2 linked regions of the Homo sapiens genome follow. The protein of the gene in region 1 purifies or fractionates together with the protein of each later gene. This does not show direct contact. Each region holds a gene or a part of one and is shown in the gene's direction. Other genes may lie near its edges.

Region 1 (4,013 bases):
GGCGCCTCCCAACATGCCCGGCTATTTTTTTGCATTTTTAGTAGAGACGGGGTTTCACCTTGTTAGCCACGATGGTTTCGATCTGCTAACCTCATGATCCGCCTGCCTCAGCCTCCCAAAGTGCTGGGATTACAGGCGTGACCCACCGCGCCCTGCCCACCATACAATTTTTAAAGGCTCAGGTTTCAGACTGAGCCAGCTCCCAGCAGCCCCAACCCTTGGAGAAACGGACAAGTTTTAGAACAGTAGTGGAACTTCCACATTCCAGTAGACATTTGAGTTATTTGCTGGGGGTGAGGCAGTGTTGATTGTACATGGTGCTTATTTATTTATTTATTTATTTAGAGACGGAGTTTCACTCTTGTCGCCCAGGCTGGATTCCAATGGCGCGATCTCGGCTCGCCGCAACCTCCGCCTCCCGGGTTCAAGCGATTCTCCTGCCTCAGCCTCCTGAGTAGCTGGAATTACAGGCATGCGCCACCACGCCCGGCTAATTTTGTATTTTTAGTAGAGACGGGGTTTCTCCATGTTGGTCAGGCGGGTCTCGAACTCCCGACCTCAGGTGATCCGCCCGCCTCGGCCTCCCAAAGTGCTGGGATTACAGGCGTGAGCCACCGCGCCCGGCCTATGGTGCCCATTTCACAGATGAGGGAAGTGACCCAGCCTCTCGGTCCCACTGAGGCACTGAGTCCCTGCCTGCTTCGTTTTGCCTTGCCCCCCAGCCCCTTTCCCCTGCCCCTCTATCTCCCCTGTCGGCTTCCCACGCCAGTCTCTGGTTCTCTGCCTCCTGCTGTTTAGTGGGGTCGAGACAGGGAGGACCGGGGAAGAGAGGGATGTGACTTGGCCCTGGCCACCCCGTGGGTCCACGGGGCTGCCGCAGAACAAGGGCCTGCCACCAGGCCCCTTAGACATCCCTTGCTCCTGCCCTTCTCAGGCTCTGATCGTGTCTCTGCTCCCCCAGGTCGCCCTTTCCAACTATTTTCCTGTCTGCCCCGCTGACGCGTCCGCTGCCGAAGCACCTCCTCTCTCTGACTTTCCGCCTTCCCGCTGCGACCCCGGTTTTGCCCCTCTCCAGCTCCCTCAGCCGCGGGCACCTGAGCTCTCCGCGGCCACCAGGGGGCGCCCGCGGCCCAGTCTGGGCGCGAGAGCCGCCAAGCGCCCACTCCGTTCCTCCTGGTGCCCCGCCCCGTCCGGCCGCGGCCCCGCCCCTCCCGGCGCCCCGCCCCGTCCGGCAGCGGCCTCGCTCCCTCCGATCCCCCCCGCGCCCGGGACCCCTGGCCCCACTGTTGGGCCAGCTCGCCGGGTCCGGCCATGGGCCCCGCCGCTCGCCCCGCGCTGAGATCGCCGCCGCCGCCTCCGCCGCCGCCTCCGTCTCCGCTGCTGCTGCTGCTGCCCCTGCTGCCGCTGTGGCTGGGCCTGGCGGGGCCCGGGGCCGCGGCGGACGGCAGCGAGCCGGCGGCCGGGGCGGGGCGGGGCGGAGCCCGCGCCGTGCGGGTGGACGTGAGACTGCCGCGCCAGGACGCTCTGGTCCTGGAGGGCGTCAGGATCGGCTCCGAAGCCGACCCGGCGCCCCTGCTGGGCGGTCGTCTGCTGCTGGTGAGCGCTGCTGAGCCATCTGGCCGCATCACTAAACCCCTCTCTCAACCCTCCCTAGAGACCCCGCACCCTGAACCGACGTTCATCCTCCACCAAGCCTTGAGAGTCCAGCGCCCCTCCCCAGGCTCCCCAGGCCCCCAGCATTCCGGCTTCCCAAACCAGAGAGCCAGATGCTCTGGGAACTCTGGCCTTGGCATCCACTGTGATGACCCCGGCTCCCTCCCCCACCACACCCTACCTCCCTCTGCTCATGGCCCCTTGCCACACAGATGGACATCGTGGATGCCGAGCAGGAGGCACCAGTGGAAGGCTGGATTGCAGTGGCATACGTGGGCAAGGAGCAGGCGGCCCAGTTCCACCAGGAGAATAAGGGCAGTGGCCCGCAGGCCTATCCCAAGGCCCTGGTCCAGCAGGTGCAGGGGATGTCTATGGGGGAGGGGGCTGGAGGAAAGGATTCCAAGGCATCTGCTAGAGCCAGGCCCTCCTTAGATGGGCCCTTAAGAGCTTGCAGAGAAGCCCTAGGCCTGGTGGGTCAGGGCACCCCAGTTTGAAGAATGGAGTCAGTATGGCTTCGAAGCAGGGAGGTGAGAGGAGGCCAGAGAGAGGTTGAGAAGCTTGACCAGGCTCTGAGAGTATGGGATGGGGGAGCTGCTGCTGACGACCACTGCTGGGACTGCCCTGATAGGACCGGGGAAGGCACAGCGCATCTGGAAGGGAGGCAGGAGGAAGAAAGCAGTTTCCACCTTTGACCTCAAGGAGCTTATGGCAGTCTGTCCAGAGTTTTGCTCACTGCAGGGCCAGGAGCTAAGAGCAGCTAGGGCTGCAGGTGGTGAGACAGGTGTGCAGGCAGGGTATATGCTAGCCTCTCGCCTTCTATCCCTCTGCAGATGCGGCGGGCCCTCTTCCTGGGTGCCTCTGCCCTGCTTCTTCTCATCCTGAACCACAACGTGGTCCGAGAGGTAAATCGGACCAGGCCGTGAGGGTAAGCAAGCTGGGGAAAGGGGGACCCAGGCCTGCTGACCTCCTTGTCTCCCTGCAGCTGGACATATCCCAGCTTCTGCTCAGGCCAGTGATCGTCCTCCATTATTCCTCCAATGTCACCAAGCTGTTGGATGCATTGCTGCAGTGAGTTGGTATTTAGACTTCAAAGGACTGACCCTGGGTACAGAGAGCCCCTGGTTCTCCCATGGACTGAGGGGGCTTGGGACCAGGGCCTTACCTGTTAGCCTTTTTTTTTTTTTTTGAGATGGAGTATCACTCGTGTTGCCCAGGCTGGAGTGCAGTGGCGCAATCTCGGCTCACTGGAACCTCTGCCTTCCAGGTTCAAGTGATTCTCCTGCCTCAGTCTCCCAAGTAGCTAGGATCACAGTCATGTGCCACCACACCCAGCTAATTTTTTGTATTTTTAGTAGAGACAGGGTTTCACCATGTTGGCCAGGCTGGTCTTGAACACCTGACCTCAGTTCCACCTGCCTCGGCCTCCCAAAGTGCTGGGATTACAGGCAGGAGCCCCCGTTGCCACTGCTGCTGCTGCTGCCCCTGCTGCCACTGTGGCTGGGCCTGGCAGGGCCCGGCCTAACTGTTAACTTTTTTTTTTTTTTTTTTTTGAGATGGAGTTTCGCTCTGTCACCCAGGCTGGAGTGCAGTGGCGCGATCTCGGCTCTCTGCAAGCTCTGCCTCCCGGGTTCATGCCATTCTCCCACCTCAGCCTCCCAAGTAGCTGGGACTACAGGTGCCCACCACCATGCCCGGCTAATTTTTTTGTATTTTTAGTAGAGACGGGGTTTCACCATGTTAGCCAGGATGGTCTCGATCTGCTGACCTTGTGATCTACTCGTCTCGGCCTCCCAAAGTGCTGGGATTACAGGTGTGAGCCACCGTACCCAGCCAACTGTTAGCTTTAAGACTGCCCTCTCGGCTGGGAATGGTGGCTCATGCCTGTAATCCCAGCACTTTGGTAAGCCAAAGAAGGAGTATCACTTGAGTCCAGGAGTTTGAGACCAGCCTGGGCAACATGGCAAGACTCAGTCTCTACAAAAAAATACAAAAATTAGCTGGGCATGGTGGCACATGCCTGTAGTCCCAGCTAATCAGGAGGCTGAAGTGGGAAGATCACTTGAGCCCCGGGGGTAGAGGCTGCAGTGAGCTGTGACTGTGCCACTGCACTCCAGTCTGGGTGACAAAGGGAGACCCTGTCTCAAAAAAAAAAAAAAGAAAGACTGTCCTGTCCCAGGCTGAAAAATGGGTGAGGGGATGGGAAGGAGGTGCCAGAGCCTGGAGCTTGGAGCAAGGAAGTGGCTCTGTGGGCAGAGAGGACTGGCCCCAGCAAGGAGGAAGATGGACTTGCAGGCTTCCCTGGCCTGGCTGGTGTGAAAATTGGAAAAACCAATAGAGGGAAAAGGCCTGGGGCAAAGTGT
Region 2 (3,500 bases), on another chromosome or scaffold:
GGCCCACAGGGTGCACGGAATGGGGTCTGTGGGAGGATGGGGGCATCCTAGCCCAGGGCAGGGACCCCGTGGGCCCCCCAAGATGAGCTGCGTCAGGCTGTTGCTTTGCACACTCTGAGGGGCCTGCCTGAGTGCTGCATGGGAAGCCAGCAGTGTGGCCGCCCTCCCCAGAACTCATCCAGGGCACCAGGGTGGACCCATGAGTCCCGTCGGGTCATGGGCATCAGCCTCGCCATCCTGGCCTCCAGATACAACGATTTGTCAGATTCCCTGAGGTCAAAGGGAAGCTTCAAGGGTTGCCATCCCCGCCTCCCTGGCGGTCCTAGACGGGATGTCAGGAGGACGCAGGGCCATCGCTGCTTTTTAAATGTCACAGTGACTGCAGCGTCTGCTCCTCTGTGGAAGGAGCTTGCTCCGCTAATGAGGGAGTTCCTCCTCATGGCCTTCCCCTCACTTCTCTTCAAAAAGTTGCCCTTTATTTTAACATTTTTTAAGTTTTATTTTTTTGAGCCAGGGTCGTGCTCTGTTGCCCACGCTGGAGTGCAGTTGCAATCATAGCTCGCTGCAGCCTCAAACTCCTGGGCTCAAGTGATCTTCCTGCCTCAGCCTCCCAAATACTGGGACTACAGGTGGGCGCCACCACACCCAGCCTCTGCCCTTTGTAAGTGAAGTCCCCCAGGCAGGTTGAACCTCTTACACCTTCTGCCCCTGCCTGATCCCCACTCCCTACCCCCCACCTCCCTGTCCCCTGTAATGAGAAAGGCAATAAGTTTTGGAGCTTTCTGGAGTTCCTGCCCCTCCTGAAAAGGTGGCTGCAGAGAGGCTGGAGCTGATGGGGAAAGAGGTGCCACGAGGCCTCCTCTGGGTTAGGGCCACACGGCTCCCAAGGCCCCCGTCTCCTTCTCTGGGGTGACAGGTGCCCCCAGGGCCACACGGCTCCCAAGGCCTCCGTCTCCCTCTCTGGGGTGACAGGTGCCCCCAGGGCCACACGGCTCCCAAGGCCTCCGTCTCCTTCTCTGGGATGACAGGTGCCCAGGGCCACACGGCTCCCAAGGCCCCCGTCCCCTTCTCTGGGGTGACAGGTGCCCCCTGTGTCCCAGAGGCTTCTGCTTGGCCACCAGTGAGGTCACCGGGCTGCCCAGACCAGGGCTGCTTCTGCCACCACATGGCAAGCAGAGAAGTAGAGAAGTGCCAAAAACCACGAGTGCTTGTCTGGTCCTTTTTTCCTGTTAAAAATAGAAGTCGGGGCTGGGTGCGGTGGCTGACACCTGTAATCCCAGCCCTTTCAGAGGCCGAGGCAGGTGGGTTGCCTGAGGTCAGGAGTTCGAGACCAGCCTGACCAAAATGGCGAAACCCCATCTCTACTAAAAATAAAAAAATTAGCTGGGTGTGGTGGTGTGTGCCTGTAATCCCAGATACTCAGGAGGCTGAGACTGTAGAATTGCTTGAACCTGGGAGGCGGAGGTTGCAGTTAGCCGGGATGGCACCACTGCACTCCAGCCTAGGCGACAGAGCTATACTCCGTCTCAAAAAAAAAAAAAAGAAAAAAAAGTAGAATTCGGTTGGGCTCAGTGGCTCATGCGTGTAATCCTAGCACTTTGGAAGGCCAAGGTGGGTGAATCACATGAGGTCAGGAGGTAGAGACCAGCATGGCCAACGTGACGAAACCCCCATCTCTACTAAAAATACAAAAATTAGCTGGGCGTGGTGGTGTGTGCCTGTAATCCCAGATGTTTGGGAGGCTGAGACACTAGAATTGCTTGAACCCGGGAGGCAGAGGTTGCAGTGAGTCGAGATGGCACCACTGCACTCCAGCCTAGGTGACAGAGTGATACCCTGTCTCAAAAAAAAAAAAAAAGCCAGCCGCTGTGGCTCACGCCTGTAATCCCAGCACTTTGGGAGGTCAAGGCGGGTGGATCACCTGAGGTCAGGAGATTGAGACCATCCTGGCTAACACGGTGAAACTCCATCTCTGCTAAAAATACAAAAAAATTAGCCGGGCCTGGTGGCAGGCGCCTGTAGTCCCAGCTACTCGGGAGGCTGAGGCAGGAGAATGGCGTGAACCCAGGAGGTGGAGCTTGCAGTGAGCCGAGATCACACCACTGCACTCCAGCCTGGGCAACAGAGCGAGACTCTGTCAGAGAAAAAAAAAAAAAAAACAGGTGATGCCTGTGCCACTGGACACACCTGCACACCATCCTCATGCTGATCACAAAAGAGGGTGAGGGGCCGGGCATGGTGGCTCATGCCTGGAATCCCAGCACTGGGGGAGGCCGAGGCGGGTGGATCACCTGAGGTCTGGAGTTCGAGACCAGCCTGACCAACATGGTGAAACCTCGTCTTTACTAAAAATACAAAAATTAGCTGGGCACGGTGGCGGGCGCCTGTAATCCGAGCTACTTGGGAGGCTGAGGCAGGAGAATAGCTTGAACCTGGGAGGCGGAGGCTGCAGTGAGCTGAGATTGCACCACTGCACCCCAGCCTGGGTGACAGAGCGAGGCTCTATCTCAAAAAATAAAATAAAAAATTTAAAACCAACAAAAAAGAGGGTGATGGCTGAGTGAGGAGTCCATGGTGGGCCCTACACAGGGCCCAGGAAGGACAGGGCGGGAAGCGTGAGCATCCTGCCCACCGCAGTGGGTCCGCCATGGAGAGCATGACCTTAGAGAAGCAAAGCCGCCTGGCTCGAAGCAGTGGCCGCCCTGCTGACAGCTGTAGTGGCCGGGTGGCACTCGGGCTGGGGTCCGGGGGAGTCTAGGTGGCCACCTGGCTGTGTGCCTGTGCCTGCCCAAGCTGGGCACCTTTCCCTGGCAGTGCCTGGGAAGCTCGGCCGCCCTCCCTGGCTGGTGCTGCTCTGCAGCCCCGCTCATGGACTCTTGCCCACGGCCTGCTCCTTGTAGCAGGGTCGGGCCGTGGGAGGTCCGGACAGGATCTTGAATGGCCCTGTCTGCGGTCCTGGCTGGCCGGAGGTTGACCGCACTGGACAGGTCAAGGGCCTTAAACCAGGGTAGTGAGGAGCCTGCTGAGCCCCTGCTGCTCCCCGGGCTGCCTTTGGCGCTCGGACAGACACCCAAGGACAGAAGCTCGGACAGCTTCTAAGGCGAAGGGTCTCCCGGGGCTGATTTCCCGGGACTCTGGCTCCTGCAGAGAGGGCTGGAGGCGGGGCTCTGTGTTCCAGGGTCAGAGTCCTCCTGGTGGAAGCTGAGGTGCCTGATTAAATGCCTCCCTTTCTAGGCAGCAGCCCAGACGCGGCACAGAGAGGGCCTGGGAGCTTGCTGCAGCTTCAGGTGAGTTTGTTCCCAAGCCCTGCGGCTCGTTTATGGGTTTGCTTGCGCTGCAGAACTGTTTGTGGAGCAGCAGGGTTGGAGTGCCCACGGCTGGGGGGCCTCTCGGAGCCCTTGATTCACAGAACCCCTGGAGGCCGGCAGCCCTGCCTGCCCTGAAGAGCCTCGTTCTCCCAGCCGTTTGGGCCGTGGTCCTGTCGTGGGAGGCGACGGTGA

Evidence for each region. The genes of interacting proteins can lie anywhere in the genome.
Region 2: the proteins of RNF215 (region 1) and CAPN15 purify together in Homo sapiens (affinity purification with mass spectrometry; one large-scale study listed by BioGRID and IntAct). This does not show direct contact.

Annotation. Positions count from the first base shown.
Region 1 is NC_000022.11:30,384,612-30,388,624, reverse strand, and holds the start of RNF215 (RING finger protein 215 precursor), read left to right. Parts: upstream 1-1,213; 5' UTR 1,214-1,311; coding exon 1,312-1,596; intron 1,597-1,865; coding exon 1,866-2,009; intron 2,010-2,483; coding exon 2,484-2,555; intron 2,556-2,635; coding exon 2,636-2,721; intron 2,722-4,013.
Region 2 is NC_000016.10:530,712-534,211, forward strand, and holds part of CAPN15 (calpain-15), read left to right. Parts: intron 1-3,234; 5' UTR 3,235-3,287; intron 3,288-3,500.